Linked DNA regions of Homo sapiens: region 1 is reported to be linked to region 2. Evidence: microRNA targets listed by miRTarBase, many of them from high-throughput screens and not tested one by one. Region 2 holds a microRNA gene; the other region holds the end of a gene's coding sequence.

Region 1 (7,000 bases), not on the chromosome of region 2:
GAGGAGGAGGAAGACGGGGCAGGCCTGCGGTGGAGCGGGCAGTAGTGGTAGAGAACAGGGGGCTGTGTTGCAGAAACTCCAGGGAGGCATTTTTCTTTCCCGTGGGCTTGACTAGGGAGTAATAACATGGTCGTGTCACTTTTGCCCAGGGAGCTGTGCCGGCCTGTGACAGAGGTGTCCTTTGTCCGTGTGGCGCAGTGAAGACACTGGGTTGTGCCACCGTGTTCTTCCTTCAGTGCAAAGACGGACAGTGTTGAGAGGGCTGACGGTTCTGAGCGAGGCTGCTGGCTCTGAGAGAAACGCTGTGTGGGTGCAGAGACCCGGGCTGGAGGGAGGACGGAAGGCCACTCCTCACAGTGAGGGCAAGTGCTCCCCGAGGCCTCCCAGTTCTCAGGGAACCAGTCCTGATTTTGTGCTGTCCTGTTGGCTCCCTGTCTTAGATGTATTAAGTTATTTCAGCATTTAATGTTTAGCATATTACAGACTCCTTTGGTGGAGCTATAGCTTCTATAATTTTGATGGGTTTTGTTTGTTTGAATGCAGGCAACATATTGCTGAACGTTCTGATTCCACCCAATATGCCATGTACGCGAACAGGGAAGAATAACGTTCTTATCGTCTGTGTTCCAAATCCACCAATTGACGAGAAGAATGCCACCATGCCAGTCACCATGTTGATTCGGGTAAAAACCAGCGAGGATGCAGACGAGTTGCACAAAATTTTACTGGAGAAAAAGGATGCCTGAACACGCAAAGTCGGCTGCAGAATTATTGCCAAGTTGCTGCTGCTTCCACCGCCCCTTAAAGTTAGTCAGTTTTTCTTCTCTTCTTTGACATTCTAAGAACTTATAGATAACTTAAAACTTTTGTGAGGAAGATTAATGTGGCCAATAAAACCTTTAAATGTTAAGTGTCAAGAAACTGCACTCTCCCTTCTTAAGAACTGCCTAAAGTGTAAAATACATTTGAATGCAATTTTTGGAAGATTTTTTAATGTTCGTTTATTAAACTAACCCTAAGTGATTTCTTCAAGGACTGCAATCAGGGTATCAATTTGCTTTCCCAAAGGCTCTTCCAACCCGTGGGTTTTGGGGTCCACCGCCACCACGAGAGAGGCTTTTGAACAGGTGCCTGGCTGTGTTCAGAAGGAAGCTGGCCTGTGTGCTTCTCTCCGGTGGGCTCAGCCGACGTGTGAGACTTGTTCTGTTACCAAATGAACCGGGCTGCCACGCTGTGACAGGCGTTTGTCCTCTGCTTTATTTTTACTTTGAAGCTCAAATGCGAGTACTAAGTGTTCACCTCAGCGTTCGAATCATTGGCCTGTAACCCTGTGGGCTGCTTCACGAGAATTCAGGACCTGCATTTTCATTCTAAAAAGAAATGAACAGCTTGTGAAGGAGTTTTTTGGCTTCATAGTTTCTATTCATGAGGTAGTGTTACTTCTTTATCCCCCTAAAGACAAAATGAAGATAAAGGGGGATTGCCAGGAATGGGTTTAAAAGCACAAATGTGGTAGCTTATCATCTACACCATGGAGAGTGAACCCTTACGAAATGAAAGTCAAATGAGACCATCCGAGAAAAAGATGCGCATAGGCATTTGTACCATGATCAACCCCACGCACATGAAAACTGTGACCAAGTGACGTGCCTGGGAGCTTTGACACACGAGCCGTGTGAATTCACTAGGAAACATGTAATAAAGTCATGGAAGAGAAAATCGTGTGTAAACTTTGCCTTTAACTTTAGACCGCAGTATATTATAATACATTTGATATCTGAAATATCTTTACTTTTTTAAGAGTAAGATTCCATATGTCTGTCTGGAAGGGAGCCATGGTTATTCACACGAATATCCCTGTCACTTCTCCAGAGGTGTCAGGTAACTAACACGAGCATTCTTTGAAGACTCTGGGCACATGAATGATACACAGAATTGAATGTTTAAATTTCCACTGAGTCCTCATGAATCATTTGAGACTAGTACCAGCTGATCTTGTGTACAGGCTCAGGGTCAGTGCCCAAGGGCTCCCGCGTGTGTGTTCTGATCTTCAGTGCGTAGCACATTCTCCATTTAGAAAAGAGTGGTCAGAATAATTGTGGACGGTACAGTGGCTTTTTAAAACTACAGTCTTTAGGTGTAAGGTTTGGCGCCGGGAGCAATTTTATGATCAAATATGATGAACTCCTAAGTCACTGAGGTGTGATTGGGCCAATGTTGGCATGAGGTTCTTGCTCTACTTCCAGTGTTTTGATTCCACTGGGAGAATTTGGCCTAGTGTGTGGCTTTGGATGAATCCGTGTAGAGAGAGGTGAGCTTGTCCTGTTACAGATGCTGTCAGACATAGCGATAGTAGGCACCTAGGGAGGAAGTGGCCGTTAGTTTTACACTGACTTTTTAAGAATGGAGAATGCACGTGGGTTTCTGTTGCGGATGATTCATAGTAAGCAAGCGGTTGATGCTGTTAATACCGGCCCCACCCGATTGACATTAAGTTTATTCAGCTTTTAAAAAGATGAAGAACTAAGGGGAACAAATTTAAGTTTGTTGCAACTTAGCCACACATGCTTCCCTGGTACCAGCTGGAATCAGCAGCTCACAGGCATCTTCAGGACACTTCAGTGTATATGACACAGTACTTTGTTAGCGTCTGCGTGTGTATGGAAAGTTGACAAAAAATGGCATGAAAAGATCATGATTGGATTTTCTTTTAAACCTGCCCTTCTGTAAAAAATAGTTTATATATTTTTAAATTAGTAGGTATGTGTGGCTTCCTTTTTTCCTAACATTCCCAGCAAATTTTTGCTGCTAAGACTATCACTGTTAAAGTGAAAATTACAGGGAAAAATGTGATGAATATACCGTAACTCAAAATGTGATATTTTCTTAAAATCACTCTTTTATGCTTTAGGAACTGGTTGGTCTCCACTTTGATTATTAGTGTAAAGAGCCTGAGTATACGTGGATTTCATTGTAAAATTTAACTCCTTGTCTTTTACTTGGGGCACGGGGCCCCTGGAGGGCTTCCCTACTTTCCCCACTATGTTAACAGGTAATTCTGATTTATGCGTTTAGTTTGACTTATTTTTAACAAAATATTAGAAGTTATGCTTTAAAATGTTTAATGTGGACTGAAATTTTCATCTTTTGTTTGAGAATCTATGAAGTGTATCATATACGTGGCCTAAAGCAAGGTGTGTATTTTGTTATTCTGAAATTGTTTTGCATCTGGACAAATACTAAATATCCCAGTGGCCTTTTTTTTTTTTTTTTTAAAACCTGTGTATCCATCTCATCCTTTTGCGCATTCCTAGTAAGCAAAAAAATTTGTTATGCCATCTTCATTATTCGAATTACAGACTGAAAAAATATGGCCAGTTTTTAAAGAAGTTTAGATTATGTTTTCCATGGAAGGACAAGTCTGACTGTTCATAGGCTGATTTTCTTTAAGAGGATTATTCTGTTTTACAATTTCAATTCTAGATCACATTTTATATATGCTGCATGCCAAAAAAAAAAAAAAGAGAAAACTGCCTTTTCTGGTGTGGAGGGGAAGAAAAACTAATATTCTACCTTACTAGTAGAGTTCAAAACAAGTTTTCACTGAGAGCCTTTTCAGTAAAAGTTAAACAAGTTTGTTTTTTGAGCATTTGTCAGTTATTCTATTTCAGAAGAGTCAAAATTCAAGCACGATACATTTTGAAGGCTTTGCAAACTCCTAAACCCCTGATGAGTCCTCTCATTCTGGAAGTGGGAATTTGAGTAGATACTGATTTGTCCCGTAGTATGGCAGATGACAGGGAGGTCTTTTCCAAGCAGGCACTCAGAACACAGGTCACCGTATGTTCTCAGCCAGTAACAATCATACTGAGGACGAAGGACTCTCCGTTTGATGCAGACACAATTGTAATGGAGATGTAAAACTTCTTAGCAATCAGATGGATAAATTGTTTGCTTTTTACTTTAAATAGGAAATTGTTTTCTAAAACTAAAATACTTGAATTGTCAGACAATATAATCTCAGCTTGTATTAGTTTTTGAATGCTCCCATCGAGGAAGTGTAACAATCCATGAAATGTGAATAAATGAAAAGTAAACAAAATCCCAATGTGTGAGTCTTATGTTCCTCTGTGATGCACTTGGCATTAATACAAGTCAGACAGACCTGAGGAAGAAGAATCAACGCAGAAGCTGCAACCGGAAACTTCCTTGAACAACAGGAAGGTCAGCTTGGAGGTGAGTGAGAGACCAGTTTATTATCAGACTCCTTGTTGGGGGCCGAGACTACTTTTAAACCATTCAGACCAAGGGTTTCTGTTGGATTAAAATCTTAACAGATTGGAATGGGAACAATTGATCCTTAATGGGCTAGTGTGCAAAGCATTGGCTAGGTGCTTTATATGTATTACCTTGGTTAGTCCTCAAAGCAAACCTTTGAGACTTATTTTTTAACCTTTCCTATGTTACTCAGCATTTATTTGGTTTATAAGGGGTATTTTCTGGTTTAAAAAAATAATATTGCAAAGATTTAAGTTATCCATCAAAGTATTTTCCTGAACCGTTAACATCTAATAGAAACTAAATGACACTAAGAGAATGTCATCTGAAGAGGAAGATTGCACCTGAGCCGCAGCAGCCCTGTTTAGATACTCAGCTGCATGGCTGGGCTAGAACCTGGGTTCTCAGAGTGGTCCTGGGACTGACACATAAGAAGTTGATGGAAATGCAAGCCCGGCCGGGCCCAGTGGCCCACGCCTGTAATCCTAACACTTTGGGAGGCCGAGGTGGGTGGATCGCTTGAGCCCAGGAGTTTGAGACCAGCCTGTGCAACTGTTGGGAAAAGGGCTTGTGGGGTGCCTGTATAAACTGGCCATAAAAATACAGGACACTAAGTTGTGGAAAGCCACAAGAGGTCTCTGAGGAGGAGAGCCTCCTAATTGCCATCATGTTCCCATGCTCAGAGTGAGACCTGCTCTCGTATCTGTAAACACTGTGTTCAAGGAGAGAGACACTCCTTTGAAACACTGGAATGCGGACAGACGTGCAGGCTCCGAGTTAAGCCCGCTCCCACCAGCTACTCTCCGATAAAGATACGCTGTTTGAGCAGCACAGAGGAGGTTCGTTGAAACCGCTGTTGCCGTAGATGATGCCTGTGACGCGCCGCCGCCCTTCCACTGTTTCGCCCCGAACATCTGCTTAAATCTAAGTGATTGGACTCAATAGTGTGGAGACCAGAGCTCTAAGCCTTTTGCAGCCTCCACATTTTGCAACTGGCCCCCTGGCTCCCACCTTCACTCTTAACCTGTCTCTTCTCAATCCTTTGTCGCCACCAGACTTCGGGTACCCTACGGGTGGTGTTGAGGCTGGTCCCCAACATGCAACATAGCAAAAACCCTGGCTGTACAAAGAATACAAAATGTAGCCAGGCATGATGGCATGCACCTGTAGTCCCAGCTACTTGGGAGGCTGAGGTGGGAGGATGGTTTGATCCCAGGAGGTGGAGGCTCCAGGGAGTGAGCAGTGATCATGCCACTGTACTCCAGCCTGGGTGACAAAGCAAGACCCTATCTCAAAAAAACAAAAAAAAATCAAACCCGGCTGGGCGAGGTAGCTCACGCCTGTAATTGCAGCACTTTGGGAGGCTGAGGTGGGAAGATTGCTGAGCCCAGAGTTAGAGACCAACCTGGGCAACACAGCAAGACCCTGTCTTTAGAAAAAAAAAAAATTTTTTTTTTTTAATTAGCTGGGCATGGTGGTGGAAGGAATCGCTTAAGCCCAGGAGATCCAGGCTGTAGTAAGCCGTGGTTGCGCCACTGTACTCCAATCTGGGTGACAGCAAGACCCTGTCCGTGCCCATCCACCCCCCCACAAAAGGCTAACCCATGGGCCCCAACTAGGCTACTGAATCAGCGCCTCAGGTTGGAGCCCATTTTTAAAAATTGAGATAGAATTCATATAAACTGCACCCCTTTAAAGTACATGATTCAGTGGCTTTTAGTATACTCACAGTGGTGCAGCCGTCATCACTGATCCAAAGTATTTTCCTCACCGGTCTTCTGGGTTTGAACGTTGGGTTAGAGCGTGCATTAGGTGATCCTGAGGCATGCTCACATTTGGGAACCGCTGGCACATGCACTCCCGATGACTCCAAAGATGGCCCGTGAAATACCCCTTGCACACGCCGGGAAGAAATGGCAGTAGTGATCAGCGTTGCCAGCAACTATGCCAGCCTTTGGACGTAACCTTGTCTCACTTCAACATCGTCGCGTCCCAGGAAGGAAAGTGGTGATTCTACTTGAGAAAACCCAGGCCCAGGGTTAAGTGTGTCTGAGGTGGTGCAGCTTGAGGTCCCAGCCCCACACACCTCTCCCCAGCGTGCCACGTTAAGTGAGATATACGTGCCCACTAAATTACTCAACTGCACTGGCTTCTGGAAGTGGCTAAAATCTTTTAAGCAAAATTGTTTATTCAGAGTAGCATAAAATTTGGCTAAAAGCCATGGTTATTTCAAAATGAGCAACCTAATTGTTTCATTAAAATCAGATTCCAAGAGGAAAGACCCCAGTCCACACAGAGGAAAGAACTCTCTAACCTGTTGGCTGATGGAGAGGCTAAGTCAGGGGCAATTCAGTGACACTGTAAGGAAAGAAAAGACAACATGATCCTTTCTTTATCCCCAGAAACAAGTATTTTCTCTTCCTCATGTAAATTTTCCAGCTGTTCTTAGCATTTTAACAATCAGGCACAAAGTACAGCATGTTACCACAGTCAACATGTCTATTTACAATGAACTGTGTTATTATATGGATTGAGTTACATTCCCCTCTCCTCCCAGTGTAAGATTCCCAAAGGTTTTCCTTTCCAGTTACCTTTTTTCCTTCTAAGCTAGGGCATGACAGTACTTCCTAAAAGCTCATCTAAGGCTAAAGGAACCGAAATAGCAGATTAGCCTTCCAAGAGGAGGCAATGAATAGGAATGAGGTTCCCGCAGGCAGCTTCC
Region 2 (7,264 bases):
TCCCTAAAGACACAATTTCCTACCACCCAGGCTGGGGGCACTTAGGATAGGAGAGGGCCCCTCTTCACCTCCCCACCCTGCAGAACAGGTCCTGGATCCTCCCTTGTGTGGCTTCCAGAAGGTCTGTGAGATGGGCAAAAGGTTCTGCCCATGATCTGTCCAATGGTGTCCAGTGTCAGGCAGGAACGCTGTCCCACTGCAGCGAAGGCCTTTCTTGCTGGAGCGGGAGGGTCACTGAGAAGCACTTTTTGCTTTGTTTTTCTGTTTGTCAAAAGCAGCGGCTCCCAGATGCCCGGGTTTAGGGCGTCCCCCATGTCGGGCACCTTGCTTGGCCTGTCTGGGTGCGTGGAGCGGCAGGAGGGGCAGCTCCCTGGAGGGCTGTATGAGTGGGTTTTCCAGACTCCCCGCCTCCCCCACCACTCCATTTGCTTATTCATTCCAGGCCATTATCCCAGCCTCTGCCCAGCCTCAGGCGGGTCGAAATGCGATCCGGCACCATTGATCGCCTGCAGCCCCAGGCTGCCGATGGAGCCCGGCTGGTGCGGCCACAGCTGGGTGGGGAGGAGGACAGGACCCCCCACATACACACTGGAGGAGGGTGGGAGTGGCCTCCTCAGCAAGTCCCAGGCTTGGGGGCTCCATGGGACCAAGAGAGCCCAGTGCTGCTGATGTCCCAAAGCAGGCCCGCCCACCCTCGGAGAGGCTTCCAGAGTCGTGCCTCTGCTCAGAGGCCAAACCTTCCCCACCAAGCCTCTCCTTTCGGGCAGAGGTGTCCTCCCCAGCGCCCAAGCCCAGGCTGCCGGTCCGGTCTGGGTGCCACCGAGGTCCTGGACTTGGCCCTGGGGATGGCCTGGATCTGTTTGCATCTTAAGCCATCATCCCATCTCACTCCACCCTAAAGGGCAGGCAGGATGGGAGGGGTGGTGGCGGTGGCGGCGGCAGCGGTGTCATTTTGGGGGCCCTGCCAAGTCAGCTGCTCCCCCAGCCGGGGCATGTTCGGAAAATGAGCCTGCTCATGGTGGGCCCATACTGCCCAGGAGGCTTGAGGGCAAAGAGTCCCTTCCAGGCTGCAGGGGAGGCATGGGGATGCAGGGTTGGGGGCAGGCAGCCTGCACCCTTGCTAAAGGCTTGAGATGCCTTCAGGACACTTCAACACCCCTTGGGAAAGGACCTGGCCTCATCAGGGGAAGTGGGAACACGGAAGTGTGCTGCCCTTGGGTAAGTGACTGGCGGTCTGGGGAAATGCCACTCCGAGAATCAGATCGCAGCCAGCCCTCAAAGGGTCTGGGTGTGTGCAGGGCTGCTGGGTGTGTGCAGTGGGTTCTGTGGTCAGGAGAGTGCCGTCTGGATGGGAGATATTTGGTTGGTTTTAGCTTGGCCCATTCCTGCCACTGACTGATGGCCCCAGAGGCTGCCTGTTCCCGTTCCTGGGTAGAAGGTCCCAGCGCCATTGTTTGTCCACTGCTTTTAGGGAAGAGGCCTTGGCAAGTGGAATGCTCTTCCTCCCTTGGACTTGATAGGGAGGAGGAATGTTTTGTGTAGCAACTTCCCTCTCTCCCTTTGGGGTGGGCAGCCTGTGAGCTTTAGGCTCTAGGGAATGGCTTGGGAGCATCTCTCTGGATTAAATGGAGCAGTGACGTGGGCTTAGTAAATAGCAAAACCCAGCCCACATTAGCCATCTCTTCCCCAGCGCCCAGGGGCAGGGCTCTCTGGCCTGGCTTGTGCTGGTTCCCAGAGTCCCTGCTGTCAGGTGCTGGGAGTGGAGGTGCCCTCGGGTTCCCTTGGGAGTGGTGACCACAGCTCAGGGCCTGGGTTGGATCCTGGTGGCTGCCCTAGGGATGGTGTCTGCTCCATGCCTGCCCACAGGAACTGCAGGTTACAGATATGAGGGGAAGGGAGGAGAGGAGGGGGCTGAGGAGGGACCGGGACCAGCAGGAAGGGGGACTGTGGGGTTGGGCCTCCACACCAGGGCGACCCTGCAGGAAGGACCTTGTCGCAGTTGCGGGGATGGGCGCCTCTGTCCTGGCCCTGCCTGGACCATCCTAACTGTCTCTGTCTCTTCCTCAGCACAGACCGAGGCCTCCCCAGCTCCTGGGGGGAGCTGCTTGCCTCCCCCCGTTTTTGGCAATGGTAGAACTCACACTGGTGAGGTAACAGGATCCGGTGGTTCTAGACTTGCCAACTATGGGGCGAGGACTCAGCCGGCACCCTGTGCACAGCCAGCGAGGGAAGGGCCGGCCATGCTGGACCTGCTGTTCTCCGCGAGGAAGGAGGGGACTCAGGTCCCGGACTGCTGGGTAGTGGCAGAGGGCAGGTGCAGCTGGAAGTGACACTCTGTGTTTCCCTGCATCCCCCTGAGGTCACAGGTCCTCAAGTCAGCTGGGAAGCCGTTCTCTGGCCCTCAGGGGTGCTGCCAAGAGGAGCTGGGGTCCAGCTCTGCTCCAGGCTGTGGCCCTGGAGTCTGAATCGAGGAGTGAGGGAACTGGGGGATGTTTGGTTTCAGGGCTTTGGCCTGGCTCCTCTGGGTGGTGAACCTTCTCACCCTCTCCCCTGAAAGGCCCTGTTCAGGGTGGGCTCTAGGGCCCCGAGGGAGGGTCTCCTAACCTTCCACAGGTCACTAAGAGTGGTTCCTTCCTGGGCTGCTGGCTGGGAGGATGAGGGCAGGGAGGGCACGCCGTGCATCACGGACATCCAGTGATCCTGCTGAGGCCATGGAGGGCCAGATGGGATAAGCCTCCAGAGATGTGCAGGAGGAGAGTGTACAAGTCACTTGTGTAAATGCGGGACTGGCCCCCTGGGGTGCAGGTGGCCCATGGGCTGGACCTCTATGCCTCCAGCATTCCACTTCATGGATTTGTTCCTCCTGACGCCTCAGAACCTGAGACAAAGCCTCCACTCACCTTCCCAGAGCTTGTGTTTGCAGTGGGAGCTCCCCTGAGCCGGAGCCGGGCCACAGGGTCAGAGTGAGTGGCACTTCCCAGAGAGTTGGGCTTGGTGGGCAGACCTGCTGGGGAAGCCCGGCCCTGGAGTCTCCTGGCCTGCAGATGGCTCAGGAGCCAGAGTGGGAGCTGCGCGTGTGGTTGAGAGGGTGTGGGTGCAGGTGTAAGTGTGTGTGTGAGTGTGGCCTAGCCCGCAGTGAACGGTGCAAATGCAAATGTGAAGGCCTATCCCCTGCTCCCCAGCCCTCGGCCTGCCAGCCTTCCTTCTCTGGTGCTCCCCATCCCCCAAACCCCTTCTATCAGCCCCCATCAGCCCTCCTTTCTCCTCACCTGCCCTCGGAGGGTCATGTGTGGTTCCATGACCCACCAACCCCTGTGGCTGGGCAGGGCGGGGCAGACATCTATCTGGTGGCTCCAGGCTCAACCGGCTCCGTGCAGCTCACTGCGCTCTTTTGGGGAGACACAGGCCGAGTAGGGAAGGTCTGAGCCGGCAGCTCTTGAGACAGAAAGAGAAGGGAACTGTTCTCCCGCAGGCTGCACTATGCATGTTACATGCCGTGAGCACAAGCAGACGCTGCGTAAACAGGCTGGCTCTGCAGGGCATGAAGAAGGCTGCTCTGAGCTAGGGCCACACGGCACCTGCTGGGACACAGGGAGGGGTGGGGAGTCCTGGAAGATGAGTGACCCTCAGGGAGAGGAGGAGACTCCTGTTGGAGAGCACACAGATTTCCTGGGGTCTATGCCGGGCTGGAAGGCTGGCCATCTTAAGGCTGCATTTGTTCCCGAACCTAAGGACCATGGGAGCCACGCAGCCAGAGGGGGTGTGATCAGATGTGTGTTCTGGTTGGATGGCTCTTGTGGCTGTGTGCAGAATGAAAGGAGGAGTTGGACTTGGCCATTAAGTCCACGATGGCAGAGGAAGCAGGTGCCATGGGAGAAGGACCTTGGATACATGCCCAGGAAGGTGAGTAGGGGTCTGCCAGAGACCAGGGCCTGAAACGGCTCTGCTCTCTGTTCTTTTTTTTTTTTTTTTTTGAGACTTGAGTCTTGCTCTGTCGCCCAGGCTGGAGTGCAGTGGCGCCATCTCGGCTCACTGCAAACCCCGCCTCCCGGGTTCACGCCATTGTCCTGCTTCAGCCTCCTGAGTAGCTGGGACTACAGGCGCCCACCACCACGCCTGGCTAATTTTTTGTATTTTTAGTAGAGACGGGGGTTTCACCGTGTTAGCCAGGATGGTCTCGATCTCCTGACCTCGTGATCTGCCCGCCTTGGTCTCCCAAAGTGCTGGGATTACAGGCATGAGCCACTGCGCCCGGCCTGCTCTCTGTTCTTAAGCTTGTAAATAACAAAACCAGGAGATGTGGGCTGAACGGTTTAGTGTAGTGATCAACAGCAGCATAATCGCGGTGCCCAAGTACTGCTAAGTGCTAAGCATGGAGGTAAGGTCAGTGATTAGAATGCGTTTTATAGTCCAAGCTGGCGTGGAGGAGCCTTGCATCATCTTTGTCCCCCGACCCACATAGCTTCATTTGGCTGGTACAGCTGCTGGTGCTCCATGCTGGCAGGAATAGAATTATTATGGGGCCTCAGCAGGGTGGGCGCTGAAGAAGAAATTGGGGGCTTTGGGCAGATTGAGTCACAGTAAAGCTATTGATCTTTGAGCACAGACTGTGCTACATTTTCATGATTTCAGTGAATCCTCACAACCACGGGCAGCGCACAGATGAGCAAACAGGATCAGGACAATGAAGTGTTTATAGCCAAGGTGAGTGGTGGAGCAGGGAACCCGGGCCCTGGCAACTGCTCCCAGAGGCTGCAGGCCCCGTGCCACACAGCCAGGGGAGGGGGCTGCACTGTGGCCAGTGGACCCTGACCTTCTCCCTGGTGCCCCTTTAGCCCCTGCAGAGACTTCTGCCTTTCCCTAGGATACATGGTTGCTGGGGGTGGCAGAGCTAGAACCAGGGTGGTGGGAAGGCAGGACTGATCAGTGGGATGGTCCCTACGGAATGGAATGTCCCAGCTGCCGTCACCACTGCCACCTCCCCATCTCTGTCCTGCCCTGCTCCACTGACCGTCCTCTGAGCTAATCTGACCACAGTATCCCCACCCTCTCCCTTGGGATAAGCCCAAGCGCCTTACCTGGTTTATGGGGCCTGGTATGACCCAGCCTTGCCATGCAAACTACCCTCCTGCTCCCCCCACCTGTCTTCCTGCTCGCCAGGAAGAAATTGTTTCGCCTTCCTCATGTGGCCTGCCCTCCCCGCCAGCTCTTCCTCCCTTCGAAGCTGGTAAGGCAGCATGTCTCAAATGCCCTGCACACACCTTCCCAGCCTGCCAGTGCTAAAACCACAGGGCTAGGGGTGAGGGTTGAGGTTAGTAGGTCAGCTTCACCCATCAACTGTGGAGGCTTTTTGGGTCCAGGCTGTATCTCACTCACACTTTCATGCCCAGGGCTGGCCTTGGCCTGGTATGGGGCCTGGCATGTGGCAGGGAGGCTGTGGAATTCCAGACCTGGGTGATGCATTCTGACTTCCACACTCTGCGTAACCTCTGACCTCAAGCATCTCCGAAAGTCTTGTCACCCCCCCAAGAGTCTCAGTTCCCGCAGTGGAAGGGACCCTCGTGCATGGGTAGCCCATGGGCCCCCTGAGGTCATAGGAAGGCCTGCCTGGCTCTGACCTCCAAAAGGGAGGGGCTGCCCTGGTGTCAGGGCCTAGGGCGTACAGATGGCTCCACAAGGCAGCTCCTCCAGGTCAGGCAGCTGGAGCCCGGGCACCTTTTGGAGCACAGAGTAAGTGTGCACAAAGTACCATCAAAACCACATGTGAGAGGTTTCCACAAAGACCAGCTTTCCAGCAGAAAGAAGATGGCTGCATTAAGTCCACCAATATTCATTTTTTTTTTTTAAGAGGCATCCAACATTCCTGCAGGGGAAGAGGCTGTTAGGGATGAACTCAGCTGTTCTTTTTTTTTCTTTTTGAGACAGAGTGTTGCTCTGTTTCCCAGGCTGGAGTGTGCTGGCACGATCTTGGTTCACTGCAACCTCTACCTCCTGGGTTCAAGCAATTCTCCTGCCTCAGCCTCCCAAGTAGCTGGGATTACAGGTGCCTGTCACCAAGCCTGGCTAATTTTTGTATTTTTAGTAGAGATGGGGTTTCACCATGTTGGCCAGGCTGGTCTCGAACTCCTGGCCTCAAGTGATCTGCCCACCTCGGCCTCCCAAAGTGCTGGCGTTACAGGTGTGAGCCACCGCGCTCGGCCCCCATCAAGATTCTTGTTAAACACTAACAGCAAAGGGCTGGGCTTGCTGCAGGAGGCATGGCACCCAATGCCAATGGGTCTGCCCTCCTGGTACACACAGCTCAACGCGGGAGCTGGGCTGGGCACGGTTACAAGCCCCACTGGGCAGTGTGGATGGGGCAGGTGCATGTAGTACAGACAGGAAGAGGTGCTGGGGCTGAAGAAAGGCATGGCCTCCAGGGCTGGGGTGGTGCATGGGCTCTGAGTGGAGGGAGCCACCTACATTGAGCCTGAGTAGAGAGAGAAGGGGGAAAGAGCAGGTCCCAGGGGGAGGAATACAGGGGCAAAGTGTGGTGCTTGGAAGGACAGGCTGCAGCCAACTTACAGCAGCAGATTCCTGGAGGAGAATCATGGGAGATGAAGGTTGTGAAGCCCTTGACGTTATCCCTCAGTCTGGGCTCAGTTTGGAGGGCACCCGTGCTGTGGTGTGCGCTGGACCAGACCAGAGATGGTCTGGCTATCCAGGTCCCTTCTGTGGCTTACTCGCTATATTGCTGTGCATTGGAAGACGTTTCAAAACATAAAATCCAGGATTTTTGGTTTTCGTTGGGGGCCACTCAGGAAATTCCAGTTCACTCCATTTCTGGAAACAACTCACCCATCTCCAGGAAAAATGGAAACTGGAGATTTTAGCTATGAAAGATTTGGGTGGTAATGTGAGGTTATTTTCAAGTAGTTGAAAGAATTCTAGTTCTCTATGACTTAAGAGAGCAGAAGCAGGGGCAGTAGCCGACCCCAGACAGGCATGTTCTATACATCACACAGAGCTTCCTGACTGCACCAATGAGGGCCTCGGGTCTGGACCCTCCATCTCTGGAGATGGCCAAGCAAAGGTGCTGGAGTGGGATGCCAACCTCAGGTGGGGACCAGATCAGATGCCCTGTCAGCATGACAATCCTAAGTTTATGTCGAGGCTGGTTCCTCACCCAAGTTGGGGCCTCTCACAACTCCCTAAATTCCCCAGCCATAATCTAGGCATTTAAAAATGTATATAATTGGGAGGCTGAGGCAGGCAGATCGCAAGG

What was found. Region 2 holds the annotated microRNA hsa-miR-182-5p (UUUGGCAAUGGUAGAACUCACACU, at 2,121-2,144, shown strand). A microRNA usually pairs through its seed, bases 2 to 8, with sites in the 3' UTR of a target mRNA and lowers its output. Matches are read on the target gene's strand: a 7mer-m8 pairs with bases 2 to 8, a 7mer-A1 pairs with bases 2 to 7 and ends in A, and an 8mer does both.
Region 1: the mRNA of NUP50 is a reported target of hsa-miR-182-5p. Seed matches in the 3' UTR shown: 7mer-m8 at 772-778 and 7mer-A1 at 3,506-3,512.

The regions. Positions count from the first base shown.
Region 1 is chr22:45,183,910-45,190,909 of GRCh38, forward strand. It overlaps NUP50 (nucleoporin 50), which reads left to right. Exons shown (of 8, transcript NM_007172.4): 8 at 544-4,108. The coding sequence ends at 746. LOC105373064 (a long non-coding RNA gene) reads right to left here. Exons shown (of 4, transcript NR_146602.1): 2 at 6,593-6,636; 3 at 6,008-6,291. Among named protein-coding and RNA genes, the nearest start is that of MIR1249, 14 kb to the right of the region's middle. RefSeq lists an enhancer at 6,960-7,000.
Region 2 is chr7:129,765,327-129,772,590 of GRCh38, reverse strand. It overlaps MIR182 (microRNA 182), which reads left to right and starts at 2,099; the gene lies at 2,099-2,208. LOC105375501 (a long non-coding RNA gene) reads left to right here and starts at 3,386. Exons shown (of 3, transcript XR_927963.4): 1 at 3,386-3,903; 2 at 4,633-4,704. RefSeq lists an enhancer at 1,085-1,948.